Linked DNA regions of Homo sapiens: regions 2, 3 and 4 are each linked to region 1. Evidence: fine-mapped expression QTL. A gene starts in region 1. Each other region holds a variant in brackets. All regions are shown on one strand. Distances are from middle to middle. Region 1 holds the start of PASK (PAS domain containing serine/threonine kinase). Region 2 holds the start of SNED1-AS1 (SNED1 antisense RNA 1). Region 3 overlaps PASK (PAS domain containing serine/threonine kinase). Region 4 overlaps SNED1 (sushi, nidogen and EGF like domains 1).

Region 1 (8,100 bases):
AAAGAAATCAAGACTAACTCAAATCAGACTGTGGGCAGGGAGGATCACTAAGGAAAAGGAGAATACAGCCAATAGTGCTGACCGCCCACAGAAAGCTCATTGGTGTGAAATGAGCTTTCACACTGGACACTGGACAGAGTGTTAGCAACTTAAGGCTTTTAAAGGTTCATAAATATTTTTTGAATTAAAGAATAAGGCAATTCAATGTGTCAGGTAAAAATTCTTTGGTAAGGTTGTCAAATCATTTTTCTTTTTTATAACTTTACTCATGACCTCTTTTGGAAGTCTGTCTGGAAAACATGAGGCACTAACACATTACTTGGAATTATCAACCATACTGAAAATACTCTTTCCTGACTATGGTTTATCTACAAAGAGATGTGCTCTTTGAGGGAAAAAGTTCAACTTCATCTTTGTACTTCCCGCTTAGCCTAGCAAAGTAAAACCCAAGAAAGGATTGCTGTAGAAAACAAGTCCTTATAAAACCCACCTCCAAAACCTCCAAATCCATCTCTTCTTCCCTACCCCCGCAATGACGGTGGCTCACTTACTTATTAGCTGCAGCCTGGGCTCCTGCCCTGCCTCCTAACTCGTCTCTGTGACTTGTCTTGCCCTGCTTAACCTATTCTCCCCTGCCAGAGAGTCTGATCTAATTCTAAAATCCAAATCTGATCTTTTGAGTCCAAAAGTATTTCTGGAATGCTCTTCCTGAGTTTGCATCTTGCTGCTAGAGATGCAGCTTTGGCAAATCGTTTCCATTTGAAAGCCTCAATCTCCTAGTCTGTGGAAGGGAGCTAGTATAGCACCTATGCCTCAGCAAGTTGCTGTCACGGTTAAATTAGAAAAGGCACAAGAGCAGTTAGCACGTGCATGACATGCAGTAGATATATAACAAATTAGTCACCACCAGGCACAGGTCACTTGGTGGTCCAGGCTCAGGGAGAGAAAGTTCTACTGCATGACAATCTGGCACAAAAACCCCAGTAAGAGGAGGAGTGGTGTGAGGTTAGCAAAGGCTTAGCTAACGAAGGTTGGCCAAAGTGAAGCCTGAGGGCAGCAGAGAGGGTCTGGAACATGGGACAGTGGCTCTGCATGTAAGAAAATGACTTTGGTGTACTGGGGATGATGGGCTGGTGAACAGGGACAATCAATCTAGCCTAGAGATGATGAAGGTCTGAGTTAAGGTACTGGCAATGGGAATGGAGGACGTATCGGAGATTTGGAGATACTTTCAAAAGTAAAAGTCAGAGCTCCTTGACTAACAGGACATGGGTGGGAGTGGGACAGTGAGAAAAGCCGGGCTTTTATATCTGTCATTTACCAAGACATGGAAACAGCTGAAGAGGGAGTGGGAGGATATGAAGAGGCGCTTCTTAAAAAGACTCAAAGGGTATGAAGTCCAAGACCCTTAACACTACCGCCCCCATCCCCACCACATACGATTTGGTCAAACTCTCCTCCACACCTTTTGACAGCAGTTTTCTCCGTCTTGAGTGATTCTTGCTCTTTTCCCTCACCCTATCCCCAACCTCGTTGCCTTCGAGTTATTCTTCAGGCTCCAGCTCAGAGCTCGCCCTGCTTCTGCAGCTGTCACCACTCCCTAACATGTCAGGCCTTCCTGCTGCACCCGCCCTCCTTCCCCAGCTCCACATTCCTCTTCCCTACCCCTTTCACATAAGGCAGTGACTGCTCTTCTGGGAGGTCTGTACCCCTCACCAAACCATGGGACCCAAAAGTACTTAAGCTGATGACACAACTGATTCCCCAGTTGCTAAGTGGGTGTGTGCACGCATTTTTACACACATACTGTACGTGCACGTATATGACTGTACCTACAGATATGCAGAAAATTATAAACACATGTGTACGTATAACATATACATATATGCATGTGGTTTTTTTTTCCAACAAAGTGAATGAGGAGGAAGAAAGTTGAATTCAGACTTTTTGGAACTATGACAGCTTTGAAAACAGGTATCACCTTGTGTAACTCAATCTTCCGGTTCCTTGTTACCCCTTCCCAACAGTCCATTCGATTTCAAGAGAAGACCCTTCTCCACCCTCACCACGTGAACCAAGGAGCAGACTCTGGTAGATCCCAGCGCCTCAGTTTCCTCGTCAGCTGACCGAGGAGGCTCCCCCGCCCGTCAATCTCAGAGGCTCGGGGCGAGGCTCCAACTGGACTGAATGGAGCCACCGCGTCCCATTCAGCCCCACCCCCGGCCTGGCCTCGCGCCGCCGCTCTCCCCCTAGCTCTGGGTCCTTCCCGGCCGCTGCCGCCCCCGGGCCGGGGCTCCCCCGAGGTCCAGCGCCTCCCCCGCTCCCCCGGGTCCGGCTGTCAGCTGTCAGGGGGCCGCGCGGCGGCGGCCAGAGGCAGGACGTGGAGTTTCTCTCAGGCACGGAGCAGTTCCAGCCCGCAGCTCCCCCCGCCCGCTGGGCCCTTGGGCCGCCGCCCGCAGGGGCCGCTCACCCTCCATCATCTCCTGCGACTGTTGCTGCCCCGCGCCGCGTTCCGCCGCCATGTTGGCTGCTCTTCCCCTTTCCGGAATCTGTCGCCTCAGACCCCTCAGCCAATCAGGGCTCCCGCCTCAGAGCCGGCCCTGCCAATGGGATTCCGGCGCGGCGACTTCAGCCGCGCCGCGCCTGCGTGGGCCCAGCGCCTCATGGGAGTTGTAGTTCCGTCATGAGGCCGCGCGCCGCGCCTCCCCCAGAGCAGGTAATTTCAGGCGGCGGAGCCGGAACAGTCTGGAGGCGAGAAGCTGGGAAGGAAAGCAGAGGGAGTCGAAGCGGGACGCACAGAGCCGTAGCTGCAGGCAGACGGAGTGGACGTCTAGGCAGAGTGGAGAGACGCCCTGGGCTTGAGAGTTGACTTATGTCACTGTCTCGACCTCGGAGGCGTGGAGGGGCCGCGGGCCAGGCGGATCTTTCCGTGGCTGCAAGGTGCGGGCCAGTCCTACGTGCATCCCTGACCTCTGCGAGCCTCGCTGGCTGCGTCTGTACAATGGGCCGAACGGCAAGAGCAACAACATTCTCCCGGCGTCCCCGCGCGGATTTTACCCATGCGAAATGCCGCCTTCTCTTGACGCTCGGAGCAGGCGGGCAGGTGCGGGGCACTTGCGCTGGTGGGGCCGCTAGCCAGCTGGCTGGCTCCGGGGCGCCAGCTGGGCTCCCCTTGCAAGTCGTTCCCAGCCCAGTGCGGACGCTGCAGCCTTCGTCTACCCTGCGGAGCCACCCGGCCCATGAACGAGCCGCCCCGCGTCCTCCGCCTTCAGAAAGAGGCCTCCAAGAGGCGAGCTCTGCGCTACTCACCCATTTTGATCGCGAGTCGGGAGGAAACCGCATCTGCCCGGCCCGGGGGCGGAGGCGCCCATTATTCCTTTGGCTCCTCCGAAGCGCCGTAGGGGTGTTTGGTGCGTCCCTAGCAACCCTTAGCGCGGGCTTCTAGACTCTGGCTAGCTTAGTCCCGCCCATACGCGCAAGTGGCTGGTCCGTGGAGCTTGTCAATCGGTGCTAGTCGCTGTGCGATTGGTCGGTGGGATAAAAGCGCGGAAGGGCTCCTTTCCGTGGTGTGTAGCCGGCTTGGCGTGACCCTCGCCTGATCCAGGTGAGATACCTGCGCTCGGGAGAGCGGGCCGGGCTCCGCCATCTCCCCAGGGCGGCTGTGGGGCCTGCGCGGCTCCGCGCCCCTGGCCCAGGAGGATCCGCCGCCCGACTCTTAGACCAGCCCGACCCCGGGTCTCCCGCCCCTGCGCCCGTCGCCCTTCGCGCACCGCCGAGCCCGCGTCCTCTCCGTGCCCAAATCGCGGCGGGGTTGCGGCCGTTGGCCCTGGGCCCCGCGCCCCCAGCGTCTTCGGGGTGCCCTTCAGTGTAGCCTGCCCGGTGGGCGCCGAGGCCCCGCGCCTCGGGTCGCCTCGGGACCCTGCGCTCTCTTCACCGCAGCCGGCCCTGCGGGGCGAGCTCCAGGAGAACCAGCCCGGATCCCGCCAGCCTCCTGCACTGGGCGTGTGGGTCCCTGCGGGCTCAGCCGGCGCCGCGGGGTCGGGGGCGCGCGCCGCCGGCGCTCGTGGTTACAGCAAAGACCTGGACTTGAGCCTTAATTTTTTCACTAATTTTTCTTTCCCAGAGTACGGCAGGGGCCTGCGCTGCCGTCTTGAGGCCTTTCTCGTCCTTACCTTCCGCATCTCAGTACCATTCGATGTCCATTTTTCTCTTAGGGGTTCCCTCTCTTCATCTTTCTGCTGCTACCTTAATTTAAGACTTTATAATTTCTTGCCTGGATTACTGTAGCCTTTCTCCTGCTTTCCAGCCTTGCACCGACATGGTCCCTGGAGTAATCTTTGTAAAATGCATATCTGGCCATGTTACTCCTAAGCATTGAATCCTTAAAAGTTCATTTTGGGGATAAAATTAAGACTTTGGGCAGGCATAGGAGGCTCTGGGCTCATGCTTGGCCCTTCCAGGCCCACGTCCACCTACTCTTCTGGGTACTGAACTCCTCTCTGGGAGGCTTTGCCTCTGAAAGACTTCTTCACTCTGCTTGGTAGGGCCCGGCTCTGCAGGTGCCTCCTCCAGGACTGACATCCTTGCTGTGTTCTACTGCACTGTTCACCTTGTTGGCCTCATCCTGAAACTGGTTCTCCTTTTTGTTGTACAGCTGTGCTGACAGCAATGGGAGCTGTTTGCTTCTTAGCTTATGTTCTGGTGGGAGGGGGACAGTTGCTTCTAGAAGTTCGCCGAGATGCTCCCTGCAAAGTTGTCCTTGCTTCTGTTTGGTCTGAGGTGGGGTCACTTGTGTCTTCTGGAATCAAAACTAGCAATGGGAATATGGTTACTCGGTGGCACCATTAGGTGCTGTCTGCTGGGTTTGGGTTCCCGTGTCTGCAGCTCACAGTGGATACAAAGGACAATTTTAAAAATTTGGGCCTGGACGTGCAGGTATTTCTGGTTAACGTCTGAGTCAAAATTTAGTGATCTAAGGTCATGTGAAGCCAGACTCTGTTCTTTCTTGAGGCCAGGCTGTGGCTGTGGAGTGCACGGGAGGCTCCAGGGGCCTATGCTGTTCAGTGACAAACTGGCCCACGTGGACTTCAGATGCCCAGGAGGCACAGCGGGAAAAAGGATGCATCTTTCCTGCTGTCCTCCCCGCTCCCGCAGAGGGTCCCATCAGTTTCCCTCCTGGATAGGCTTGTAACTCTCAGTAACCTAATTAAACTTCCACAACTTTAGTTGGTATTTATTTACTTTCTCCCATGAAGGACAAAAAATTGCATGCCCTTACCCTCCCTTTGCTTTTTTTCCCCCTTTCCATTTCATGTTAGTTACTTTTACAAAGAAACTTCTGTAACATTTACAATATATTCTGAATAGTTATATTACTTTTTTATTATTTTATTTTTTGAGACAGGGTCTTGCTCTGTGGCCCAGGCTGGAGTGCAGTGGTGCTGTGTCCTCTCACTGCAGCCTCCGCCTCCTGGGCTGAAGCGATTCTCCCACCTCAACCTCCCAAGCAGCTGGGACTACCAGCATGTGCCACCACACCTTGCTAATTTTTAATTTTTTTTTTGTAGAGATGGGGTCTCCCTATGTTGCCCAGGCTGATCTCGAACTCCTGGGCTCAAGTAATCTGCCTGGCCTCCCAAAGTACTGGGTATATGACTTTTTAAAATAGTTTTGTAACATTGACATTGCAGTCTGAAGAGTTATATTTTTTAGGAATTAAAGTTTTCTAACAATGTATTCTGAAGAGTTATATTACTTTTTTAAGAAAGTAAGGTTTTACAACATTTACAATGTATTCTGAAGCTATAATTAAGTGTCCTGAGCTTTGTCTATAGGTTGGTTCTAAAAGTAGAAAAAACTGCCTCACACTATAATCATGTCATTGTTATTTATTATGGCAATAATTAGTGCATTTGGATGCTTAGAGAAGGAGATGTAAACCTGTAACTAAAGGTCCCATTCATTGTTGCTGCTTGTAGGAAAGCTGCACACTCGAACCCCAAACCCTATATGTAATAGCTTCCTACACATCTGCAGGTTTGCAGAGCCTTTGCCTTCCAGGGTCCTAGGCTGGGTTTGTGTGTGAATGTCTCTGAATTTTTTGGCCGTATCAGTTTATTCATACAAAAGAATAAAGGCAGTGTTAGTCATGAATTGTACCAGCAGAGTGGATGCATTTGAACCCATCACCCTAGGAAATCAGGGGACCTGTGCCCTTGTGCCTCTTCCCCACTCTTGCACCTGCCTGACCCAGAGGGAACCACCTGCCTGAAATTTAGGTTTACCAGTCTCTTATTTAAGAAGTAGTTTAATTACATAGGTGTGTTTCCCTGAACTACTTATTTAGATTATTTCATGACAAAGGAATCCTCCTGCTGATTGTCTTCCGTAACTTGATTTTTTCCACTCGTATATGGCTAAGATTCACCCTTGTGTGTAGTTTATTTGTTTTCACTGCTGTAATTAGTGGTATGAATATACCAGAATTTAAAATCTATCTTCTTGTTAAAGAGTGTTTGGGTTTCATTTCCTTTTTTCCTCCCTCTCTCCCGCACTCCCTCCCTTTCTTCCCTCCCTTTTTTCTGCCTGTCTCTTTGCCATTGAGAACCATATTGTCCCGAACATTCTGGTGTCTTCTTATCTGTTTGCAAAAATTTCTCTGAAATATAAATCTAAGTGAAAAGTGCTGTATCCATATAGACAAATGTTTCACTTGAATTGTTTTCTAAAGAGATTATATTAATGTATTAAGAGTTCCTGTTGATCCAAATCCTTTTTGACATTGGGTATTACTAGATTCTTCATTTCTGCTGACTTAGTAGGTATAACATCATCATGATTAGGATTTCCTCTCCTGTAAAACGCTTGTTCCTATTTCTTGACATTTTTTATTGGGCCATGTGTCTTTTAAAAATGTTTAAATTTTAAATAGTTGATCTTTTAAAGCTATTCTGGATATTAATTTTCTGTTGGTTATGTATGTGGCAAATATCTTCTCCCAAATTGTGGCTTGTTCTTTCGTTTTCTTTATGGTATTCTTTGTGAAGCTGTGTTCTCATTTTTTTTTTTCTTTTTTTTGGGGGGGACGGAGTCTCGCTGTGTCGCCAGGCTGGAGTGCAGTGGCGTGATCTCAGCTCATTGCAACCTCCACCTGCCAGGTTGTGTCGCCAGGCTGGAGGGCAGTGGTGTCATCTCGGCTCATTACAACCTCCACCTCCCAGGTTCAAGCGATTCTCCTGCCTCTGCCTCCAGAGTAGCTGGGAATACAGGTGTGTGCCACCATGCTCAGCTAATTTTTTTTTTTTTAGTAGAGATGGGGTTTCACCACATTGGTCAGGATGGTCTTGATCTCTTGACCTCGTGATCTGCTTGCCTCGGCCTCCCAAAGTGCTGGGATTACAGGTGTGATGTGTTCTCAATTTTAACGTTAAACTTATTAATCTTATTTTATAGCTAGAGTTTTTTGTGCCTTGTTTAAGAAAACTTTCCCTACCCCAAAGTCTTACAGATAGCCTCTTTTCTCCTAAAAACTTAGTGATTTTATTTTATATTTTATTTGGTTTGACAGGTCTCGCTTTGTTGCCTAGGCTGGCCTCCATCTCCCTGGGCTCAAGCAATTATCCTGCCTTAGCTTCTAGAGTGGCTCGGACTATAGGTGCAGGCCACGAGACCTGCCTGGCTAAAAAGTTTAGTGTTTTGACTTCCACAGATCAGATCTTTTATGCCCTGGGCACCATAGTGAGACCTCATCTCCTAGTTAAAAAAAAAGATGGCCATGTGAAGATACATACAAACAGGGAGAAGTCGGCCGGGCGCGGTGGCTCACGCCTGTAATCCCAGCAGTTTGGGAGGCCGCAGCAGGTGGATCACGAGGTCAGGAGATCGAGACCATCTTGGCTAACACGGTGAAACCCTGACTCTACTAAAAATACCAAAAATTAGCCAGGCGTGGTGGCGGCTGCCTGTAGTCCCAGCTACTCGGGAGGCTGAGGCAGGAGAATGGCGTGAACCCGGGAGGCGGAGGTTGCAGTGAGCCGAAGTCGCGCCACTGCACTCCACCCTGGGCGACACAGCGAGACTCTGTCTCAAAAAAAAGAAACA
Region 2 (8,100 bases), 84 kb after region 1:
CACCAGGAACTTAGGGAGCTTAGCTAGAGGGGGCTGGTTGCAAGGTACAAGGGCCCTGGATAGCATGGGTATCCCTGGCCCAGTGAGGTCCTCTGGCCCTCTGGTCGGTGTCCAGTAGGAACTCCATGCTGAGGAGCTACCAGGAGCCTTTAGAGATGGAGACTGCCCTGGACAGCTGTCCCAGCACAAGGGCCCAGCCCAGCCCAGCGGCTCCTGCCCAGTGGCCCCAGCGGAAGAGACATCTGGGAGGCCAGGGGCTGGGTTTCTGGTGTTGTGGACGCTTTGGAGAGGACTAGGGGAGGCTGGAAGGAAGCCAGAGCTTCTAGAAGACGGCCTTTCGTGTGCCGGGGGCCGCGCTGCTCTACTCACGGGTCCACACGTGCGTCGGCGCGGTGGCCAGGCTCTCTGTGGGGTGCTCCTCTCCCCTGAGCCCACTGAGGGTGGTCAGCTGGATGGTGTACCTCTTCCCAGGCAGCAGGGCCCTGTGGGCAGGAGGTGACAAAGAGAGAACAGGGATGTCTGGGACCTGTGTGTGACTCTGCTGCCAGACCGCAGCTCCCCCAGGCAGGAGGTGACTGCGGGGAGGTCATCCTGCTGCTGGTGGCCCAGGCAACCTCCACGAGGGGCAGACTCATGGCCCTCAGAGCCGTGTGCTCCTAGGGCGGGAAGCCAACCCATAGTCCGGGCAGCGGAGGAGGATCGGGTGCGCTTGGGGCTGCTACAGTATGGTCAGAGGGCCGGTGTTCAGCTGGGAGAGGCCAGAGAAGGGGGAAGTGGTCACTGTGCAGGGATGGGGGACGGGCCCTCAGCACAGGTGAGTTGATGTAAATTCTCAGGAAACCACAGGACAACGTGAGGCCAATGCCACCCCAGCCCCAGGAAGCTGCTGGCTGGAGTCTTCCTTCCCACTCGCTCTCCGATCTTTTCCTGCACCCCTGCCTGCGCTGAGCACGATTCGGAAGCTTTCTCTTTGGTTGGCGACCAAATCACAGGGGTCCACTGTGGGACTCCTGGGAGAGCTCGGGGCTGCTACCATCTACCCTCGCTGGCCGCTGCTCTCTGAGGGGTCCACTGTGGGACTCCTGGGAGAGCTCGGGGCTGCTACCATCTACCCTCGCTGGCCGCTGCTCTCTGAGGGGCCAAGTCACTCTCATGATCTGTGTGGAAAGTGTGCCCCCGGATTTTCTGAGCTTTTCCTGCTCTTTTTGGACACTTTAAAACACTACCAAGGTGTATCCTCTCTTGGCAGCCCTGATGAGGTGAGGCGGGAGTGAAGCCTCCAGGGTCTGAGGCTGGCTCACCTGAGACCTTTGTCTCCGCTCAGGTGAGGAGCGGCAGGTGGTACAGTCCACACACGGAGAATGTGCCCGAGACCTGGGCCCCGTGTCCCCGAGCCCCCACCCCTGCCTTCACCCCAGCCCCATGCTCTGGGTGTCCCTTCTTACCTAAAGGTGAACCTGTCCACACTCCTGTCCACATCGGTGGCCTGGTCCCTGAGGGCCTCAGGGTGGCGGATGGACACACGGACCCCACTGACGGTGGCATGGCGGATCCTGTGCAGGGCCCACTGCACTGAGATGGTGCTAGCCGTCACATTGGTGACCTCGAAGCCTTCCACAGGGCGGGGTCCTAGGGGGAATGGACTGTTCAGCAGGTGCCGGCCCCTCCTTGCTCCTGGGGGAGTGCAGGGGCTCAAGATGAAACCAGGCTTGGGAGGGTGCTGGGGGCCACAGAGAGGCACTGGAGAGGGTGTCCCATCAACTGCTCAGGGAACTCGGGCTGAGTGGGATGCCCAGGCTCTGGCCTCCAGGGCTGACAGCTGCAGAACCCGCTGTGAGCATGACGGCTGCAGAGCCCGCTGTGGGCCAGCCCGTCTTACCAGAGGCAGGGGTCTTAGTCTCCATTTAGATGTGGCAGTGACATGGCAGGGGATGGGCCGGAGTCCCTCTGGACATGAGTAACCCGGACCTCCCCTTTTCTGTGCCAGTTGACTATTTTGGTCTAAGAGCACACATCCGGGCCTGGTCTGGGCAACGCTGTCTTAGGAGGACAGACATACAGAACTCCCAGCAACTGCAGGGAAGGGGCCACTTGTGAGCTCCGCTTCCCGCCCAGCCAGTCTCCTCCGAAGCTCCAGTGCCACTGCTGATGCACCAGGCAGAGCCCAGAGGGCAGCGCTCAGCTCCCGGCAACTCAGCACCCCGGTCTGTGGACAGCGGTCCCTTCCACCCACCATGGCTGGCTGGAGCCCCAACTCTGCAGCGGGCAGGGCGGGCTCTGTCTTCACTCCAGATACCTTCCGAGGGCAGATCTCACATGGGGCGGCCTTGCAGGTGCTTCTTCCTAAAACAGCCCAGGCGAGCCACCCCTACTCAGCCCCTGGCAGCTCCTGCTGACACCTGCTCAGTGCCACCCGCACATGCGCCCAGGCTCTCCACTGGCCGAGGTGTGCTCTGTGTCCTTGCTGTGTTGGGAACTCCAGCCCCTTGGTGGTCAACTCCTGCAGGACAGGCCCTTGTGGGCCTCTGGGTGGGCTCAAGCTGCCTTGAATGCCTTCTCCTGTCCCTCAATGCCCTTGGCATTGGCATCAAGCTAGGGCCCAGGTGTGGCCAGGAGGCTTTCCTCCTGTGAGAACCGCCGAGCTCCTCCCCACCTACCCGCCATGCTACCCATAGGTTTCACCAAACTCACGTGGCCGCCCCGCAGGGCCCTGCTGGATGCTTAGGCCTCCCTGAAGCCCTGGCCACCCACCCACCCATCCATCCATCACGCCACTTCGCAGCAGTCTGTGCTCTCAGCACCTTTTCCTCTTTCCTCGAGCCTCTAGCACCCCTTCCCCATTCTTGCTCCTGTGTCTGGAGGCCACAGGCATGTTGGGTGAGAGTCCCATGGCCCCATGGCCCTGCACCCCACTTGGTTCCTGCCCAGCCTGTTCCGAGATCCCCTGTGCTCTAGCTGATGCGGCCGGGCTCCGTGGAAGGCCAGCCCTCTGCTTTCTTCCGGCCCTGCCCCTGTCCGTCCACTGCCATGTTCTAGGGCTCCTTTCTCCTTCCCAGAATCCCTCCCAGCAGCACACAAGCCCGCTAAGCCCTGACGCCTTCCCTAGAGCGCTCAGCATCTTCTGCTCCCCGACACGGCAACAACCCCACAGGCTGTGCACAACCCGGGCCTCCCCTGCAATCTTGGTGGCTCAGGCTCTGAGGAGGCTCCTCCTAGGACCCCCTCTTCAGGGGTCACATCTGGTCACAGCTTTCAGTGCCAGCTCCAGGTGGAGGCTCTGGGTCTGTCATTCCATCTAGGGCCTGCCCCACGGCTCTTCCCGATTGAGCCACCGATGCCTCCCCTTAGCACACCTCAGCGCCTACATATCCCTGTGAGCAGGTGCCTCTTTCAAACTCTCCCCAGGCCTTCAGAGCACCCCAGAGTCCCAGCCCCCCCAAGCCCACCCCCGCGGCCCCTGTCTCCCACACTGGCTCCTTCTAGGGACCCTTTTGGGAAGCCCCCATTCCTCCCCAGTCCCACTTCCTAGCTCCATGCCTGGGGGTTGTGCTGCTCCCACTCTTGGCTCGATTCTATGCGCCCCAATCCCATGCCTGTATCTTGTGGACCCAAGGCCACTCCCACACAGCTCTGTCTCCAGCAGGGCGGTGCCTCCAACCCCCAGCTCAGCTGTCTGTCTTGCTGCTGCAAGAACTAGGAGGGTGGACGGCATGACAGCCGCCCTGCAGGTGCCGGGGCCAGCGCTGCCCTCGAGGGGCAGGGGCTGGGCAGGGACGGCCAGGCTCGGGGACACTCACGCGTGCGGGCCAGCAGCACGGCAGGCCTGCTGATGTCATTCTTGTTGTTACTGTTTCGCTTCACTGAGAAGACGGAGATGTTGTAGGCCCTGCCGGCCGCCAGGGCCTGGAGCTGGTGCGAGGAGCGGGTCCTGTCCACAAAGTCTGTGCGGCGGTAGGAGCCGTCGGAGGAGACGTAGGTGACCGCGTAGCCATCAAGCATCTGCCTGGCGGCTGGACCATTGGGCGGGTTCCAGGAGATAGAGACCCCACTCTCCTCCACTCTCTCCATCTTGAGGGCCGTCGGTGGGAAGAGCTCTTCAGGGTTTGGGTCAAAACAAGGGGAGGGGACTGGTCAGCCGTTAGCTATGCATGCCTGGCTCCCGTCGGCGGCTCAGCCGGGTCTGGCTCTTGGGCCTGACACAGCCATCGCTGGCAGAGTCCTTCTTTGTCCCTGGCCACGTACCTCCAGGAGGGTCACACTTTTGAATGTGTGACCGTGTTTCAAGCCCACCGGGGGATTTTATCCCCTCCCTGTTCCTCAGGGAAGGGGCCTGGGCAAGCAGCGGCCAGACGCTCTGCCCTTGGAGACCGTTGGGCCCTCTAGGGAGAGGGGACCCCCTCGTGGCTCCCTCACTGGAGGCGCCCTCGCCACCCACCTTTGGCGCAGTCCTCGCC[C/T]GTGTAGCCCACTTTGCAGGTGCAGCTGTGGGAGCCGTTGCTGGCCAGGCAATAGCCACGGCCCCCACAGGGGCTGGAGAAGCAGGGGTCACTCACTGAGGGGAGAAAAAGTGGCAGTGTATGTTGGGGCGTGGCCAGGGGTCCCTGCTCCAGCCCCGCCCTTGCTCCTGGGGCACTGGGTCCCTCCTGCGTGGGTGTGGAGGGGCGGGGGGCACAGGACAGCTACTGCCTCCCTTCGGTTCTGCCACCTCCACTGCCCTGCGGGGCCCAACCCAGCAGCTCCTCCACCCTCCACAGCGGAGTGCCACCAGCCGGACTGGCTGAGGGGAGGAGACACTGGATCAGGACAGGACAGGCCACCACCCCAGTGACAGTCCTGCTTGAGGAGGGGAGGTCAGTGGTCAGGGAAGCCTCATCAGGAGGTATCCCACTGGGGGCTGATTAGGGAGAATGTTCCAGATGGAAGGACAGCCAGGGGCCAGACCTGGGTGTGCAAGAAACTTGGCCTGTCCAAGGGCAGCAGGGCCTATGTGTGGACGTGAGGCCCCACCCCTGGGTGTGTCCTCGGGTGAAGAGGGGTGTCTGGGGGGTGAGCGCAGGAGATGGGGAGGTTTAGAAGGCACCATTGTGGGACCAAGGGAGACAGGCGGAGGGCCACTGGCCTGAGAAGGGGACTTCCAAGGCGGCGGGCAGAGGGCGGGGAGCAGGCGGGCAGAGGGCGGGGAGCAGGCGGGCAGAGGGCGGGCAGCAGGCGGGCAGAGGGCGGGGAGCAGGCGGGCAGAGGGCGGGGAGCAGGCAGGCCTGCCGCCCTACCTGTCTCGCAGTGGTAGCCGAAGAAGCTCTCTGGGCAGACGCACAGGTAGGCCCCGCCGCCGCTCTCACACCGGCCTCCATGCTGGCAGGGGCTGGAGTCGCAGGCGTCCACCTCTGGAGAACACCCAGAGAGTGGGCCCAAGCTGCAAGGGGGGAGTCTGGGGGAGGGAGGAGAGGACAGCGGGAAGAAGGGAAAGGAGGAGTCTAGGGGCGGAGGCCAGGAGAGAGGGGCAGTGGGCAGGTCCCGCCCCTCAGCCCTCCCCAGCACCCTCACCTCCACCCCTCCCTCCCAAGGTGGCCGCAGCCCTGGGGGTCCCTCTCCCCAGGTGGCCTGCCCAGCAGGGAATGTGGGGATGCCCCACCTCCTCTCTGATCTTCCAGAGGCCCAGGCTCTGCATGTGGGGCCCACTGGAGGGAGCCCCTACCTGTCTCACAGTGGACTCCAACGAAGCCTGCAGGGCACCGGCAGACATAGGCCCCTGGGAGGTTCCTGCAGGACCCTCCATTTCTGCACGGGTGAGCTCGGCACTCATCCCTCTCTGCACAGAGAAGGGGTGTCAAGGGTGTTGCTGGCTCAAGTCTGAGGCGCCCACATGCCCCCAGGATTCCGTGCATTTCCTGGGGCTTCAGTTACCCCTTTCCCAGCTGGGAGCAACTACTCAGGACATGTGCTTTTTCTTCCATCAGCCCCAAACCCACCCCTCCTCGGGAGGCGTGCCACCTCCACTGCCTGCTGGCAAAGCCCCACCTCCAGGCCATGCCTTCCTCCAGGCCACTCCGCAATGGGAGGCTCCCCAGGGCCACGACTGGGCACGGCTCCCTGGGCCTTGCCCTCCCTGGAGCCTGCGTTTCTCAGGCTTAGAGCCCTAGCGAGGTACAAGAGTGTGCAGGGCTCATGGGGCAGGCCTCCCCTCCCTCCACTGGCTGGAAGCACCGACCAGGTGTCAGAGACTGTGACCTGCCCTCTCCGACGCCCACCTTCTCTGCGCCCTGAAGCCAGGCCAGCATTTCTCAGCTGGGCTCTCAGTCTCCCCTGGGGAGGTGCAGGAAGGGATATTTGTAAAATCTTTGTCTTGGATGTCAGAGCTGGCAGGGGCCCGAGAAAGCATGCAGTGGCCACCCTGGCCATCCAGACAGAGACCTGTCCGGGGGACCCAGTGCCTCAGGCACATGGCCAGTGTGCTGCAGCTGTCACCCCAGCGGGGCCAGGGCCCCTCTTACCCAGCTCACAGTGGGCGCCCTCATAGCCTGTGCTGCAGAGGCACAGGTACCCAGCAACGCGGTCCTGACAAGAGCCCCCATGCAGGCACGGCTGAGACCGGCACTCATCGATTTCTGAGAGGAGAGAGCCCAAGAATAAAGCAATGTGGCCACGATTAAGCCAAATTAAGATGCACATAAACTAGTCCTGAGGGGCCAGACAGAATTCGATGATACATCATCAGTGGTTGGAAAGGCCAGAGACCAGGGCTGGATATCCTTGGAGTCGGGGCAGGGCAGTGGGCCTGGGGCTCAGTGCCTGGCTGTGTCTGTGAAGCAGCAGGGCGGGCTTGAAACCACCCCAGGGCTCCCAGAAGACGCTGTGGGACTTAATTCCAGTGGTTCAGGCCGACAGGACAAAGGCCTCAGGGGTTTGACAGAAAATGTCTCATGTCCCATCTTGCCATTTCAATGTATAATAGTCACCTGTGAAACCAGTCCATCTGGGACAAATCTTGGTTTTAAATGATTCACCACAGCTTTCTTTTCAAGCGGGAGTTGTGCTCCTGAATTTAAATATTTATTTTTTTAAAGTTTAATTTCATGCTTAAAAAGTAAATAAATGGTAATGACTTAGTGACATCTGGGACTAGCAGCCACCCCGGCAGCCAGAATGCTGAATGGGCTCATCCGACCGTGTACCCTTCTCTTCCCTTGCGATAAGAATCTCTGGGTTTATAATTTCCTTGTCTTTAAAAACTAGGTTTTCTGGCAGTAAAATATGTAATTAAAATTAGCTTAAAAATTTTATAAATTGCCTAAACAATAGTGAATGTTTTTGTTGTTTATGAACTTTATTCATAGTACATCATGATATATATTGTCTTCTCTCAGCATTATATGAAGAAGAGAACTCCACACTGTAGGTCACTGTGGTTCATAGATTTTCACTGCTGAATAACATTACACAGTGTGGTTATATCATACTTCACCCATTCTCACTGGCTGGGTCTTTGGGTTGGTTCTAGACTTTTTCCTTTTTTTGTTTTCTTTTTTTCTTTTTTTTTTTTTGGGGGGATGGAGTTTCGCTCGTTGCCCAGGCTGGAGTGCAGTGGCATGATCTTGGCTCACCACAACCTCCGCCTCCCGAGTAGCTGGGACTAAAGGCGCCCACCACCATGCCCGACTAATTTTTGTATTTTTAGTAGAGATGGGGTTTCACTATGTTGGCCAGGCTGGTCTCGAACTCCTGACTTCGTGATCCGCCTGCCTCAGCCTCCCAAAGTGCTGGGATTACAGGCATGAGTCTACGCCCAGCCTAGACTTTTTGCTTTTACAAAAAATGTTGCTGTGTATATTCTTTCCCATCTCCTGGTGCAGACGTGAAGTTTTTCTTAGGTTTATACCCAGAAGTGCAATTGCTGGAACACAGTTGACGTAAATGAGCAACAGTGGGCAGATTGCTCAACAGGCAGAGTGCCACATTGTTTTCAAAGTGCTTCTAGCAATTTATACTCTTGCCAGCAATGCATAAGAAATCTTGTTGATCCACATTCTCACCGGTATAGGCTTTTCAGACTTCTGAAAATTTACCAGCTGAATGTACCTCATTGCACTTTTGATTTGCATTTCC
Region 3 (8,100 bases), 29 kb after region 1:
ACTTTCTAACTTAAAGCTGCTGGGGATTGGACTGTTGCATTCTGGGGACTGGACTTTTCTAACCTAAAGCTGCTGTCTAGCCAGGTCAGCACAGGCCTGTGCGTTCTTACCTTCTCACCCTTCAGGTATACAGTTTGAGGTGAGGCGGGTGGAGCTCCAGGGCCCCACACCTCTGTTCTGCTGCTGGCTGGTGAAAGACCTCCTCCACAGCCAACGCGACTCAGCCGCCAGGACCCGCCTGTTCCTTGCCAGCCTGCCCGGCTCCACCCACTCTACCGCTGCTGAGCTCACCGGACCCAGCCTGGTGGAAGTGGGTATTTGCAATCAATGCCTGCCCTGGACTTGCCTTGTACTGTGTGGCAAATATCCTAGTTGGCATCTCTCTCTGTTTCCTTGGGGACGGGAATACAGTCTGTTTGTAGCTTTTTTTTTTTTTTTCTGGGACGGAGTCTTGCTCTTGTTCCCCAGGCTGGAGTGCAATGGTGCTTTCTCAGCTCACTGCAACCTCTGCTTCCCGGGTTCAAGTGATTCGCCCGCCTCAGCCTCCCGAGTAGTGGGGATTACAGGCACGCGCCACCACGCCTGGCTAATTTTGTATTTTTAGTAGAGACTGGGTTTCTCCATGTTGGCAAGGCTGGTATTGAACCTCCTGACCTCAGGCGATCCACCTGCCTCAGCCTCCCAAAGTGCTGGGATTATAGGCGTGAGCCATTGCGCCTGGCCCTCTTTGTAACTTTTCACACTGTCTTTTAATATCCAGTGTGACTATGAAGCCACTTTAGGTCGGGCATGGTGGCTCAAGCCTGTAATCCCAGCACTTTGGGAGGCCAAGGCGGGTGGATCACGAGGTCAGGAGATCAAGACCATCCTGGCTAACACAGTGAAACCCCATCTCTACTAAAAAAAATACAAAAATTTAGCCGGGCATAGTGGTGGGCGCCTGTAGTCCCAGCTACTCGGGAGGCTGAGGCAGGAGAATGGCGTGAACCTGGGAGGCGGAGCTTGCAGTGAGCCGAGATTGCGCCACTGCACTCCAGCCTGGGCGACAGAGCCAGACTCCGTCTAAAAAAAAAAAAAAAAAAAAGAAGCCACTTTAAATCTGCCTAGGCCCATGTATATGGTGGGGTGTAAACACGTTTCGACATGTGTGCCAGTTGGGATCAGTGTGCTGAGGCTGCTTGGGGTGCCCTGTGGAGATAGGCTTTCAGACCTGTCTGAGAGCATGGGAGGAGAGGGGACTGGAGTGCAGGGCACACCTGCCTCGGGCGGCTGCTGAAGACGCAGGGGGACCACTGTGGGTGCTGCACCTCTGCCCGGTGCAGTTGCATGTGACCCCACAGACCTTCTTCTGCATTGCAGGTGCTCAGAGCCAGACCCTGGTTTGAGGAGCCCCCCAAGGCTGTGGAACTGGAGGGGTTGGCGGCCTGTGAGGGCGAGTACTCCCAAAAGTACAGTACCATGAGCCCGCTGGGCAGTGGGGCCTTCGGCTTCGTGTGGACTGCTGTGGACAAGGAAAAAAACAAGGAGGTAACCTGGCTGTGGGGGGGGAGTGGCGCCGGGCACCACTTCACATGGCTCTCGACTTTTGGTCCCAGTTCTCAAACCTGGGGTTTTTGGAGGAGTCCTCTAGGTATGGCACCAAGCACACAACCTGGCATGTGGGCGGTTTCCGGATTCAAAGAGGCTCTCCCAGCAGCACACACGTTGACATCCAGGGTTGCTGATCCCGTCCAATTGTAGATTCAGACCTCGAACAGGCCAGGCTCAGGGCTTCGCCTCCTGCCATTGTGTTGAGATCCCACATCTGGACCTGTGTTCCCTCCTTTCTGAGCCTGGGGCTTGCACCATTCTCCTACTCCCCACTGAGATGCTCATATCTCACGGGCACTGCACATGCATGCTGAAAACATGCTTAATCTTTTCAAATAACCTGCTTTGGGTTTCATTAATTTTTCTTATTTATAATCTATTTTCAATCTTGTGACTTTTCTCTTATTATAAAAAATTTTTTTCATTATTTTTTCTTACTTTGGATTTAATTTTATTTTCTTCTTCTATTTTCCTAAGGTGGTATCTTAGATCATTTATTTGAGCTATGCTTTTTTCTAATATAATCATTTAATGTTTTAATTTTTCTCCAACCCCAGCTTTATCTGTGTATCACATATTTTCATATGTTGTGCTTTCACATTCATTCATTTACAAATACGTTGTTACTTTGTGTTATTTAGAAGTGTGTTGTTTAATTGCCAATTATTTGGTGATTGTTCAGATATCTTTTTGTTTTTAATTTCTTTATAGAGAACATACTTTGTATAATGTCAGTTTCTTTAAATTTGTTGATGCTTGTATTATGTTTTGAAGTCTCTACCTATACTTGTGGATTTGCTTGTTTCCCTTTGTAATCCTCCCAGATTTTACTTCATATATTTGGAAGCTCTGTTGTTATAGGAATACCCATTTAGTATCATAGCATCTTCTTGATGAACTAATTCCTAATTTGATATGCCTTGTTCTGAAGTCTACTTTGATATTAGTATGACTACTCCAGCTTTCATTTGATTTGTGTTCACATAGTAAACTTTTCTCATTCTTTTACTTTTAGTCATTTATGTCTATATTTAAAATGGTCTTCTGTAGGCAGCATACACTTGGATCTTGCTTTTGAAATTCAGTCTGAAAGTCTCTAATTGAGGTGTTTATACCGTTGATGTTTAATGAAATTACTGATATGGCTGGATTTAAATCTATAATCTAAATCTAGATGTTTTCTATTGTTTCTGGATATTTCTGTGCTTTGTTATTTTCCCCTCTATTTTTCCTACTTTCTGTTGACTATATTTTATTATGTCATGTTTTTGTTTCTTGTTAGTTTTTAATATTTCATCATGATTTTTGGCATCGGTATTGAGATATAGTTCACATACCATATAATTCACCCATTTAGAGTGAACAGTTCAGTAGATTTTAGTATATACAGAATTGTGCAACCATCACCACAAACGAAGAACATTTCATGACCTCAGAAAGAAACCTCATACCCATCAGTAGTCAGTCGCATAACCCCCGTCCTGCTCGAATTTCCTCCAT[C/T]CCATCCTGGGCAACCACAAATCTACTTTCTGTCTCAATAGATTTGCCTATTCTGGACACTTCATATAAATGGAATCATGCACAGCATGCTCTTTTGTCACTGGATTCTTTCATCTAACATAATGTTTTCAAGGTTCATCCATATTGCAGCATGTATAAGTACTTCATTCTTTTTTATGACCGAGTAATATTCCATTATATGAACAGACACCATATTTTGTTTATCCGTTTATCAGCTGATGGACATTTGTGTTGTTTCCATTTTTTGGCCATTAGGAATAATGCTTCTATGAACAATTGTATATAAGATTTGTGTGAACATATGTTTTCAGTTCTAGGCATATACCTAGTAGTGCACTTCATGGGTCATGTCGTAACTCTGTGTCTAATGTTTTGAGGAACTGCTGAACAGTTTTCTAAAAAGGTTATACTGTTTTTACATTCCCATCAGCAGTGTACAAGGGTTCCTGGTCTACATATCCTTGTCAACACTTATTATTGTCTTTTCATTTCTAGCCATTCTAGGGGGTGTGAAGGGGTAGCTCACTGTGGTTATGATTTGCATTTCCCTGATGACTAATGATGTCAAGTGTCTTTTCATGATCTTATTGGCTGTTTGTAAATCTTCTTTGGAGAAATGTCTGTTCTGATCCTTTGCCCATTTTTTTTTTCTTTTGAGACAGAGTCTTGCTTTGTCGCCCAGGCTGGAGTGCAGTGGCACAATCTTGGCTCACTGCAACCTCCACCTCCCAGGTTCAAGCGATTCTCCTGCCTTAGCCTCCTGAGTAGCTGGGATCACAGGTGCACACCACCAGGCCCAGCTGATTTTTGTATTTTTAGTAGAGATGGGGTTGCACCATGTTGGCCAGGCTGGTCTCGAACTCCTGACCTCAGGTTATCTACCCGCCTTAGCCTCCCAAAGTGCTAGGATTACAGGTGTGAGCCACTGTGCCTGGCCCTGCCCCTTTGCCTACTTTTAAATTGGGTTGTCTTTTTATTATTAAATTGTATGAGTTCTGTATTTTAGATACAATTTCTTGATCAGATATATGATTTGCAAATATTTTCTCCATTAAATGTGTTGTCTTTTCACTTTCTTGATGTTTCATTTGAAGCACATTTTATTTTATTTTATTAATTTTATTATTTATTTTCTCACATTGATTGTACTTTATGGATGGTTTATAGGAGGTAAGGACTTTCTGCTTAAAATATTTAAAATTTACATGTGTACACAAACATACACATGTTCCCCCACCCGTGGGGAAGGACAAGATGACTCTGAATAGAGGATGGAGGAGGAGGAGAGGGTGTAGACAGAGGGCCCTTGACTCCTACAGGGGCAGCAGGATAAGGAACAGAGTGGGGCAGAAGGTGGGTTATTAAGAAGCATCTTGCAGGCCGGGCGCGGTGGCTCATGCCTGTAATCCCAGCACTTTGGGAGGCCAAGGCAGGTGGATCACGAGGTCAGGAGATCGAGACCATCCTGGCTAACACGGTGAAACCCTGTCTCTACTAAAAATACAAAAAAATTAGCCGGGCGTGGTGGCGGGCACCTGTAGTTCCAGCTACTCAGGAGGCTGAGGCAGGAGAATGGCATGAACCCGGGAGGCGGAGCTTGCAGTGAGCCGAGATTGCGCCACTGCACTCCAGCCTGGGCGACAGAGCAAGACTCTTGTCTCCAAAAAAAAAAAAAAAAAGAAGCATCTTGCTTACTGACATGAAGCCACATGCCCAGCGAGAGCATGGATGAGGCCTCATTGGTGTAGAGGAGGCCCTTGGAGGGTGGGCACATGATGCCCAACTAGCCAGCCAAGGCCAACGTCCCAGGGGTAGGGCGGAAGTGGGGTGGCGTGCACAGGGCACGCAGCCCAGGCCTCTGCTGTCCCCACCTCCCTCCCCACCCTCCGAAAGAAAAGACAGTTTGGGCCTCAGCCATGGACGGACGCCGTTACTGGCAGCGTCTCCTTAAACTACAGAGATACAATGTGTATCAACAGGGTGATCGCTTCTGACCCACTCAGGCAGACACCTAGAGGTGCTGCATGGGCCAGAACCAGTCCTATGGTATCTTTGGTTTGTGGGCTTCCCTCCCGACTTGAATCCTCCCTCTGTCCAGCCTCTGGGGTGGGCCTCAGGGCTGGGAACGGGCTGCTCGATGGCGCAAGGCCCAGCCTGACAGCCCTTGGAGGCTGGGGGTGCTGCCCTTGCCAGCCACGGGCAGCTTACTCACTGGGGTGCTGGGACTTGTATGAGAAGATCTCGGCAGCCAGCTGCTGCGGGTCCAGGAGCTGCGGGAAGTGCCCCATCATGGCCTCCACCGGGTGCGGGGTGTGTACACCACACAGCTTGGTGTACACGCTGGCCTGTTCCTTGGCCAGGCTGTCTGCCCTGCGCCGTGGGCCCCTGCCAGCCCCTGGGCTTTGCACTGGGGGCTCCTGAAGACTGGGAAGCAGAAACATTTTAAATGGATGACGTTTAGTTGGTCTCTTTTACCGTTTGTCACTTGTGTTTTGGTGTTATATCTAGGAAGACTCTGCCAAGCCCAAGGTCATAAAGATTTACTCCCATGTTTTCTCTAAGAGTCTTATGGTTTTAGATTTTACATGTAAGTCTTTGATCTATTTTTGAAGTTAATTTTTGTGTGTGGTGTGAGACTGGGGTTGGACTTCACCCTTTCGTATGTGGATATCTAGTTGTACTAGCACTGCTTGTTGAAGACTGTCCTCTCCCCATTGAGTGGTTTTTGGCACCCTTGTCAAAAATCAGTTGACCATAGATGCATGGATTTGTTTCTGGACTCTGAATTCTATTCCATTGATCTATAGTCTGTCTTTCTATCTTAAGTGTGTCCTTAAGCCAGTACCACACTGTCTTGATTACTGTAGCTCTGTAGTAAGTTATGAAACTGGAAAATGCTAGTCCTTCAACTTTGTGTTTTTTTTTTTTCCAAGCTTGTTTTGGCTATTTTGAGATTGTTTTGGCCATTTTTCACTTTCTTAAGGATTTTAGGATGAGCTTGTCAGTTTTGCAAAAAAGCCAGCTGAGATTCTCATAGGAATCACATTGAATCTGTAGCTCACTTTGGAGAGTATTGTCATCTTAACAATATTTAGTCTCCTGATCTGTGAACGTGGAAAGTTTTCTATTCATTTAGATCTTTAATTTCTTTCGGTAGTGTTTTGTAATTTCAGTGTACAAGTCTTGTTGTTCTTTTGTTAAGTCTCCATTATTTTTATGTCCAGTTTCTTCTTTTTTCCAGGTTTATTTTTCATTTGCTAGAATATATTCGTTGCCAGTTTTTCCAGGAAGGATTCATGGGTACTATACATTCAGTCCTTGTATGTATTAAAGTGTGTTTATTTTTCTCTCATATTTTAGTGATGATATGCCTTTCTCCTCTCAGAACTTTTTAGACCTGTATCTGTTGTAATCTAGCATTATTTTGAAGTGAATTTTGCTGACAGCAAAACGTGATTTATTTTTCTTTCTAGATGTAAAATCTTTGTCTTTCAAAGTTTTCACCAGGATGTCTTTAGGGGTTTATGTTTGTGTGTGTTTTCTTTATTCTTGCTTGATACTTGGTAAGACTTTGATCTGAATATTTAAAGCTTCCGTTCTTTGGTTCCGTTAATTCTTTCCTTCTCCCTCCTCCTGACACTCATTTTAGGTGTGCATGGGCCCCCCTGGAGGAGCCTGCCCTCTTGTCTCCTTGGCCCTGCAGCTGGACAGGCCGCAGGCCTCTTCACCTAGAGTGTCAGGGCTCCCGCCCTCCCGGAGGCTTCTGGAGCTCTGCCACATCTCAGCAGGCCCTTCTTTTGCTCCTCAGGACCACAGCCTGCTTCCCCTCGTCTTCTTGCTTTCCCTCAGTCTCACTTCTGGCCTTTTGGGCCATAGTGACCCTCCCGTCAAAGGGTCTTCAGAATTTGTCTCCTTTCACCTCTCACAGGCTGGCACCCAAGTTGCCCCCTTCTCTCCTGATGACGGTGAGAGGCCTGGATGTTGCCCAGGCTCCGATGATTCTTCCTGCTCCCGCCCTGGCCCCGATGCCCTCCCGATGCCCACTTACGTTGCCTGCCCAGCCCCCCGCCTCCCTCACACCTCCTCACAGCTCAGGTGCGCTCTGCCACAGTCCTGTGCTCCCGCTGCCCTCTGCCTGGAGGGCCTTCCCCGAGGCGCTCAGAAGCTGCCTTCCCGGGACTCACTCCCTATCCCATGCACCTCGCAGGGGCTGCACCCCCGCGGCACTTCCTGCCCCATCTTTTTTTCCTTCTTGGCACTCATCGTTCCTTGGTGCGTGATCTCACTCAGCATCTCTTCCTGACACCTGAACAGGCCCATCCTGTGGTTGGCACCCGCTGGGTTGCCCATCGCTCCTTCAGCTGCGTGCCGACACCCACGTAGCAGCAGGCGTTGTGTTGGGCGACCAGATTTTCAGCGACTTGCAGTGTTCTTTCTTTTGTGAATGGTATCTTTTTCTGTTACACTTTGACTATCATTGACTGTGGTAGCACTGTTTTTCTTATATTTACCTTATGTCTGTCAGTCTTGCTAAAGTCTGATTAATCTCAGAGTCAATGTTGAAAACATGTCTAAGAGTGATAGCTTTTCTTTGTATTTTCTAGTTTTCTGGCTTCTTCGTTTATTCTCTTGGCCAGGGCTTTCCAGTCCTTGGTTGAGAAGTCGGGGTGACGTGGATGTTCTCCGGGGCACATGCCCTGAGGCCTCTGGGGCCCTCTCTCCAGCCCAGGTTATGGCTCCCTCAGCTCCACCTGGATTCTCCATCTCACCCATCTGTCCACCTTACAGAATGGGCAGTAATGACGCTGCATTTCTGGTCAGCTGCTGACCCCCTTCTGTGCTTCCTTGTGCTGCAGGCGTTTATCACTTTGTTTCTTCTTTCATGTCCGTGGGACTTAGGGGAGGTAAATGCAGGGGATGTGTCTGCCGCATGGACCAATGGTGGCCCTGGTGTAATGGGATGCTTGAGGACTGGGTGGCCCTGGTGGA
Region 4 (8,100 bases), 54 kb after region 1:
TGGGATCTTCAGCACCTAGTGCAGTGGTGGGCATATGGTATGTGTTCAGTGGGTTGATGCTGATAATGTGATGTTGATAAATATGTGTACATATAGCATTTGATGTTTAAATCAACATGAAATGGTCTTAGTGCTCTGTCTCTGTGATGTGATGTCAAACCAACATCTCTTGTAAAGACTTAGATTCTAGTCGAGTGTTTAGATTTACTCTGGAACATGAGAGATCTGGCCAGGTTCCTGGGATACTCGTGGAGTGGCCTTCCCTTCTATTTATCCCCCACTCCTGCCCCCAACAATATTCACATCTCAAGGATGCTCAAAGTTCCTTGAATCTCTTTAAGGGCCTTCTGGAGGAGTTGGGGGTCTCCAAGGACCCTTACCCACTTTGACCAGAGGAGTTCCACTATTATTTCTTTGCATTATTGACTCTTCCTGGTAAGATGTTTTTTGAGGCAGTGGTAGAAGGTTTAGGATCCACCATTTCACAGCATCTCTACAGGCCTCCTTCTCTAGAAGATAAGAAAAAGGTAGCCTTGTATATTTTTCTTAACAGATTCTTACAGTGTAATCTAAAAGTCTAAATATATTATGTGTGGTGGTGATTAATTAGCAAACTCAGCACAGCCTTAAGAAATGAAGATAAACCTAAACTGAAATTCCTCACATATTAAGATAATCACTAACTCAAATGTTAGGAAAATTTTAATTAACAGTTTAAATAGTTGACTTTAAGTTTCCCATTACTGAATTTTGCTCAGCTATCCCTAGGAAGGCCTGGAATAGTCCCAGTTTACACCAGTTAGTGCGGTTTTAATAGGGCCTCTTTCACTCAAGGTGCCCTGGCTTGGAGAAGATATATGGTGACCCTGGTAACCAGGACGTCAGCATTGGTGTTGTGTGTCCTCATGATTACTATTATTGTTATTACTGTTATGATGACGATGGTGATGGAACTCCTTTTCATTGAGTTCAGCTTGAGAATGTTAGTTGTGAATGCTTCAATGACTATTTTATTATAGAAGGAAACATCAACCCAAACCAGCAATATGGAGGAAACTACTCTCCCATATTACTCTCTGATCTTTCCAGTAAATGCCTGGGAAATTCTTTTCCAAGTGAGGAGGGCAAGAGGAGACCCAAAATACAAAGTTGGCACCTTTCAGGTGGGAGGCCAGAATAAAGCAGGAATATAGGGAGGGAAGGATGGTGAGTCTGAGGAGTGTCAGGAAGTCAGTGGGGAGATGTATCATTTCCATGGTGCTTCTGGGAAGATAGATCTGAAATTGCCACTTGCTCTGTGGAAGGAGAGGATCCTTGTTTGTTTTTAAATGTGGACTTAAATTGGGTGCAGCTAGCTCCTTGAGTTTCTGGAGTATCCTGAAATTATATGCTTGCCTTTTTTGAATGTTCTGCAGGGAAATTAAAGAGGGTGCTTTACTGTTGCCCTGAAATTTTCACCATGCGCCAGCAGGACATTAACGACACTGTCAGGCTTCTCAAGGAGAAGTGCCTTTTCACGGTACAGCAAGTCACCAAGATTTTGCACAGTTGCCCCTCTGTTCTTCGAGAGGACCTGGGTCAACTGGAATACAAGTTTCAGGTGAGAATGACTGATAGCGTGATTAGCGTAGTTTCAGGTGAGAATGACTGGTAATGGGATTAGCGTAGTTTCAGGTGAGAATGACTGGTACCGTGATTAGTGTAGTAACAGCAAGTTTCTCAGGTTTTTCAAATGTAGTGAAGGTCAGTTATATGGATAAGAAGCCTCGGACACCTCATATTTGAGTGGAGGAAGTGAAAGACTAGATTCTCTGCATACATCAGCCAAAGAGAAATCTTTAATTTCTTTACTACAGATCAAACCTATTCTTCAACTTTTCTGCCATTAATAATGAATGATCCAGTCCTATTCTTAGAGTCTAAGTGGGGACTCTGAAATAGCTAATTTTAAAATAGCTGAAACCTTCCTGTCCTTAGAATCTATTTTGCATGTTGATTTTGAAAATGTAATTTTAACAGTTGTCCGATTTTTTGGTAATAATTATGACAACTTAGGTCGAATTTCTAGATGTTTTCTGAATGTTTTGCCTATTCTTTCCATATTCATCCTTTTCCTTCCCCATTTAAAGAAAAATACCACCTCTTCCTTCTGCCCCTTCTCCCTCCTGCCCCTTTTCCCTCCCACCCCTTTATTTCCTGCTCCATGTTTCTCAGGATGAATTTGAAAGTGTTTTGAAACTGCTGGCTGTCACACAAATGTCAGTATCCTAGACTGGGTATTCGCTGTTGTCAATTAGGCAATTCTTTTTGAATCCTTTTGTACAACTTAAGTTTTTATGGTTTATAGAATGATAGGTTTCAATACTCTGTATCTGGGACTCCTAAGTGTGTTTGTGTCTTCCAGTATGCATACTTCAGGATGGGAATTAAGCATCCAGACATTGTAAAGAGTGAGTACTTGCAGTATTCACTAACCAAGATTAAGCAGAGACACATTTACCTGGAGCGCCTGGGACGGTACCAAACCCCTGATAAGAAGGGGCAGACACAGATCCCTAACCCATTGCTCAAGGACATTCTCAGAGTTTCAGAAGCTGAGTTTTTGGCCAGGACAGCCTGTACTTCTGTTGAGGAGTTTCAAGTTTTTAAGAAGCTCCTGGCTCGGGAGGAGGAGGAGTCTGAGAGCAGCACATCTGATGACAAAAGGGCAAGTCTGGATGAGGATGAGGATGACGATGATGAGGAGGACAATGATGAGGATGACAATGATGAGGATGACGATGATGAGGACGACGACGAGGCGGAGGACAATGATGAGGATGAGGACGACGACGAGGAGGAATAGCTGTGATGGAAGGACTAGAGCGAAAGGGCCCAGAGATATCAAGGAAGCTTTTCATTCTCTTAAAGCTTTTGGGTCCTTTACTTGAATCTTCTCAAGTTATTTTTTATTCTAAAACTGGTCTCTTGATGAAAAAAATTATAAGTCACCTGAGAGGCAGACAGATCAAACCAAACAGGAAACAGGAAATGCATGTTTGATCTGTTGTCACGTGTCTGTGGGGAGGGCCCTGTCCCATCCTGAATAAGATACTTATGTTGAGCTATTCACATCAAGGGGACTCAATATATCAACAATTGGTTTTATTTTTTTCTCTTTTGAATATGTTGGTGATAATTCCGTGACAGTTGGAAGATGGGGTTCATTCTTCCGGTTCAGGAATCACTATGTATTTCCTTCTTGTGATAAAAATAAAATTACGAGAAGGCAATGTGAGGTTTTAGTACATCATAGCACTTTATTTTATGAAAACATGTAGCAGATTTTCCACAAAAATGCTTATTTTTAATCCAAAAGTATATTGCTTCATAATGGTATTCAGTGCACAGCAGAGTAAAAGAAGTTAATTCATGATGTACTGGTTAATTTTGCATGGCTTCTTAAGGCCAGCAAAATGCTGGCAGTTTTCTTTATCTTTGTGAAGAACAGGCCCTTCCTGTTTGGGGAAGTTGGCTTTTATGTCAGCTCTTGGCCAGTGGTCACTTCCAAGCCTGGTGTCTCCGGCCCTGTAGTCTGTAGTGCCAGACTGTGCTGGCCTGGAGAGTGCTGGGGCAGGTGGAGGCCAGGGAATGGTCCCATACAGTTATCTCCCCTGCCCTGGTTACAGACAGCTTCGAGAACCAGAGGAGAAGAGCATAGGGTCATGGAGCAGGTGGGCTGAAGCCAGGGCCACAGGGAGCAATCCGTGACCCCCCAAGGTGGGTGTGGGGGGGGGGGGGGGCGTGTCACCTTAGGGAACTCAATGAGTCCGAAGAACAATTTGAAATGTTGGGAAAAGAGAAGAGGAATTTGATGTCAGCCGGGGTGATCCCTGAGATAGAGGCCTGTCTCTGATGGCATGAGCTCTAAGAGGGTCCTGGAGGATTGGTACATCCTAGAACATTCCAGTTAGCCCTCTTTTAGGGGAAACTGGCATAGGATTGATGCAGAAGGCATTTTTGATGATGGGACCAAAATTCAAGTCTCCTTGGTAGCATTCTAGGATCAACTAGATCCTAGGATCTGGTAGATTGTAGGATTCTAGTGGGTAGAGGCCAGGGGTGCTGTGAAACATCCTGCAGTGCACAGGATGGTCCCACAAGAGAGGATGATCCGGCCCAGAATGTCAGTGCTGAGCCTGAGAAACTCATCTAAGGCCTGGTCCACAACAGTAATGTGACTGTTCACTCGTGACAACTTCAGATGGTAAATGGACTTAGGATCGTATTATTTTATTTAAAAGAAAAATAAGGAGCTGGTTTTTCAGCCGGGTTCCTTTCCCCTATGCACTGGAATACCCCTGGTAGGTGTGAGCTGCATGCAATTGTGGGGATTCAGCACTGAAATCTAGGTGCTTTTGTTTTCTCCAGCAGCCTCGTCTTACAGCGTGACTGCAAAGAAAAAGACTTTTGTTTTGCAAAAGAAAAGCAGCTCGGTGACTCCGTCCACATCGCCACAGTTGAGTCAGATGGCAGTGGCAGTCCTTTGCCAGTGGAAGGAGTTCCTGCTAAGGGGAGGTGC[A/G]GGAGGTGAGCTGATACCTGAGTGGGGCCCTTGCCTGTTGGGTTCTCTACTGGAGGACAGTGGGCACAGCAAAGATTCCCTTACTTGTACCTGGCAGCCCACACGCAATGGGGAAAAGGGAGAGTTTGTCTTTATTGCCTTGCTTGGCCATAGGCAAAACTGTTTGGAAATGAGACATTTCACTGTGCCAGTGTTTTCATTTTCTCTTCCATTGTGGCATCCCGGTCACTGCCACCCTCCCTAGAACCTAGGCTGTTGTTGTACCCAGTCGGAGGACTAAGTAGAATCCTCAGTCTGCACTTGGTTAGATGATCAGTCCATCCCGGTTTCATTAGCAGATGGGTAATTCAGCAACTCAGGATTGCTTCTTTCATTTTGATACAGAAATCTTTATGCTCCTGACAGTTTTCTGATTCTATTATTACTAATTTCCTTGGGTGGACTTTGAGTATTTTCAAGGAAGCCATTTGAGTTTTTAAAAGAAGCCACATGGGAAAAGCTGTGGTGGCCTCTTTGGAATGTTTCAAGAACGAACTGTAATTCCTGAGCACCAGGAAGTCTTTTTACTTGATATTTAATGTGGAAAACATCCCAATGGGCAAGTCCTGTGACAGCACTTGGGACTCAGGAGCCAGTTCTTGTTGACACAAGGCTTCTAAGCTAACACTGGAGCATATTAGCATTTGCTGTGTGGCACCAAGCTTGGGACTCAGGAGCCAGTTCTTGTTGACACAAGGCTTCTAAGCTAACACTGGAGCATATTAGCATTTGCTGTGTGGCACCAAGCTTGGGACTCAGGAGCCAGTTCTTGTTGACACAAGGCTTCTAAGCTAACACTGGAGCATATTAGCATTTGCTGTGTGGCTGAGGGGCTTGAGGTCCTAGTAGGGAGTAGAAAGTTTCCTAGTAGGATTCACCTACTTTTCCAGTGATATCACTCGATCTTAGCATCTGCTAGTAATGCTGTAGCTTACATGGACAAACAGTGACAGGTCCCAGGGCGGCAGGAAGTCCGCAGTACGCGTTTGTGAACGTGGTTTCTCTCAGTTCACCCAGTGACCCTTCGCTGAGCTCGAGACCCTTCATTGAGCTCCACCTTCTGCTCTCAAGTGGGTCTGGAGCCTGGGGAACAGCTCGGGAGTACAGGTGAAACTTCGCGAATTGCCTGTTCCTTCTTTCTGAAAATGACAAATTGCAGAATACACAGACACATGCACATGAAATTTTAATAAAGATAAAAAGCCTAAAATATACTCTAACTCTTCAAAAAACATTTTTATGAAAGAGGAAAGGAAGGAGGCCCTCTTTGTGGCTGGAATGCTGGCTCTGAGCAGAGTCAGGGTGACGCGGCAGGGCGCTGGCTTTCCAGCTGGGTCAGCGGTCGTGAGGCTCAACACGAGAGGAGGTGGGGTGGCTGCTTTGGTTGTAACATTAGCAGGGGGAAGACAGCTGCTTAGAAGCATGGTGGGAAGCAGATGTGGTGAAGTGCCGTACTGTTCTGCTTACAAAGATGGGGATGTCTAAGATCGTGTTTACTACCTGATAGCCTAAAACAGTATCACTTGAGTCATGGACTAAAAGGAACCTTAAACATTGTCCAGCCCAGCCCAGGTGTCCATCTCTGTTGCACTGAGACTTGTAAGGCGTCCTTGCTGCTTCGTGGCAGTGTGCCTTAGCTTTCCAAGCAGGGGTCTGAATAGCTTTTTCCATGAAAATTCAGGGGTCTTTCTTTGATACCCTTGTGACTTGTCATTCAGGGGATGGCTTCCACTGTTTAAGGCTGAAGCCTAGGTGATCTCATAGAACAGGGTTCACCAAATAAGGCCCATGGGCCAATTTGGCCACCACCTGTTATTGTAAATAAGTTTTTATTGGAACATAGCCGCAGCCATTCAATGACATGCCTGTGGCTGTGTCTGCGCTACTGTAGCCACAGGGACCTCTGGTCTGCAAAGCTGAAAACGTTTACCGTCTGACCCTTGATAGAGAAAGGCTGCCAGTCGCGCCGTTGTCTAAAAAAGTCTGAACTCCACCTTAGTGTTAACTAGTCCATAGGATGGCTCGTCGACCTGCACGAGCGTCATAAACACGCTGGAGGACCAGAGCAGGGGCGGCTGTGTCTGCAACCCGGCTTTCCTTCTGACATCACCTGGTCTCTGCCCTTCAGCCCCTGCCCCCGTCTCTGTTTTGGAAGTGGTCCATCACAGTTCCTTCTCAATTTGTTGGGCCTCGAAGGGAGAATTCTTTCTCTGGCTTTGGAGTCTAAGAACAGGTTTCTGCATACTGCAGAAGCGTGGCTGACTGACAGCCTCACTGATTCCGGGGAATGGCGAGCTGTCATCTCATCCGCAGAGACACAGACTACACCTTCAGGAACTGCAGCTTGGGTGAGGGCACAGGCTGCTTAAACGCATCGCAGGACTCACAGGTGGTTGGTCCCAGAGGGGTCTCTCAGGGTGGGCTGGTGTGTGCACAGGCCTGGCCATCTGTCCTCTAGAGGCCTGAGGAGAGAGGTCACAGAGGGGACTGACTCCAGCTAGGACCTTTTCTCAGGGTGTCCTTTTTCATCCAGTTTTTAGACCTCATCTTCCTGGGTGTTAGAAACTCGTGAGGTTGGTGGAGTGTAACAAGAACGTCTTAAATCCTTTGAAGAAAAAACAAAGTGAAGCATGAGGAGAATGACAGGCATTCCCACTCCTCTTTAAATGGGCTGCTTCCTGCTTCTCTTAGTGGCCCTCAGGGCCTCTGTCACCCAGAGGACCCCACGTTCTTAGAGCACCAGGATTCTACCATATGGCAGTGCACACGGGGAGGACCCCGCGTTCTTAGAGCACCAGGATTCTACCATATGGCAGTGCACACGGGGAGGGGCAGCCTCCACCGACTACATCCCCATCTTTAGGAACATGTGGGCTCAGCATTGCAACTTTTAAATGTGAAATCACAGCCTGTTCCTCTTCCCTGCCCTCCTCCTTCCGGTAACGACTCTGGGTCTTTTCTCCAAGGGCACAGCTGTGTCAGGTTGCTCTGGGTTGAAATGAATTCTCGTGTTGTTCTTGGATGGGTGTCTGGGTGCGTGTGTTTCTGTTTCCTGCTTTTTTGTGTGTTGTCTCCATTATTTCAAGAATAGGTATTCTATAAGTCAGTATTTGATAATTAGTTGGGGGTTTCTGATTTGTTTTTATGGGAGTGGATGTGCTAGGCAAGCATTTAAAAAGATACATTAATATTTCAGGTGACTTACCACCGTATAAATATCTCAAACCCAAATTATGTTTGTGGATTCTTAATCCTAGTACAGTTAGGCACTGCACGATGAAGGACCGCGCGCATGACAGTGGTCCCATGAGATTACAGTGGAGCTGAGGTCATAGCCATCGTACAGAATTCTTTTTTCTTTTTTTTTTTTTTTTGAGACAGAGGGTCTTGCTCAGTTGCCTAAGCTGTAGTATAGTGGCGCAATCTCAGCCCACTGCAACCTCTGCCTTCCAAGTTCAAGTGATTTTCCTGACTCAGCCTCTTCAGTAGCTGAGATTACA

What was found.
Region 2: its variant is fine-mapped to the expression of PASK in whole blood (TOPMed, PIP above 0.99).
Region 3: its variant is fine-mapped to the expression of PASK in whole blood (TOPMed, PIP above 0.99).
Region 4: its variant is fine-mapped to the expression of PASK in whole blood (TOPMed, PIP above 0.99). The same link has a PIP of 0.9 or more in blood mononuclear cells.

The regions. Positions count from the first base shown.
Region 1 is chr2:241,144,918-241,153,017 of GRCh38, reverse strand. It overlaps PASK (PAS domain containing serine/threonine kinase), which reads left to right and starts at 3,546. Exons shown (of 18, transcript NM_015148.4): 1 at 3,546-3,604. It overlaps PPP1R7 (protein phosphatase 1 regulatory subunit 7), which reads right to left and starts at 2,551. Exons shown (of 10, transcript NM_002712.3): 1 at 2,471-2,551. The coding sequence starts at 2,522. RefSeq lists silencers at 2,130-2,469, 3,600-3,959, 4,020-4,079, 4,130-4,179 and enhancers at 2,760-2,919, 4,433-4,592.
Region 2 is chr2:241,061,293-241,069,392 of GRCh38, reverse strand. It overlaps SNED1 (sushi, nidogen and EGF like domains 1), which reads right to left. Exons shown (of 32, transcript NM_001080437.3): 17 at 6,489-6,602; 18 at 5,693-5,806; 19 at 5,268-5,381; 20 at 4,436-4,549; 21 at 3,798-4,094; 22 at 1,446-1,629; 23 at 370-482. It overlaps SNED1-AS1 (SNED1 antisense RNA 1), which reads left to right and starts at 5,275. Exons shown (of 3, transcript NR_187212.1): 1 at 5,275-5,313. It also overlaps a transcript of MTERF4 not described here. RefSeq lists a silencer at 5,167-5,326. The variant C/T (reference allele first, on the strand shown) is at 4,455.
Region 3 is chr2:241,116,159-241,124,258 of GRCh38, reverse strand. It overlaps PASK (PAS domain containing serine/threonine kinase), which reads left to right. Exons shown (of 18, transcript NM_015148.4): 11 at 126-310; 12 at 1,360-1,527. Among named protein-coding and RNA genes, the nearest start is that of MTERF4, 18 kb to the right of the region's middle. The variant C/T (reference allele first, on the strand shown) is at 3,091.
Region 4 is chr2:241,090,743-241,098,842 of GRCh38, reverse strand. SNED1 (sushi, nidogen and EGF like domains 1) reads right to left here. Exons shown (of 32, transcript NM_001080437.3): 32 at 3,275-7,205. MTERF4 (mitochondrial transcription termination factor 4) reads left to right here. Exons shown (of 4, transcript NM_182501.4): 3 at 1,416-1,600; 4 at 2,405-3,272. The coding sequence ends at 2,845. Among named protein-coding and RNA genes, the nearest start is that of MTERF4, 7.5 kb to the left of the region's middle. The variant A/G (reference allele first, on the strand shown) is at 4,562.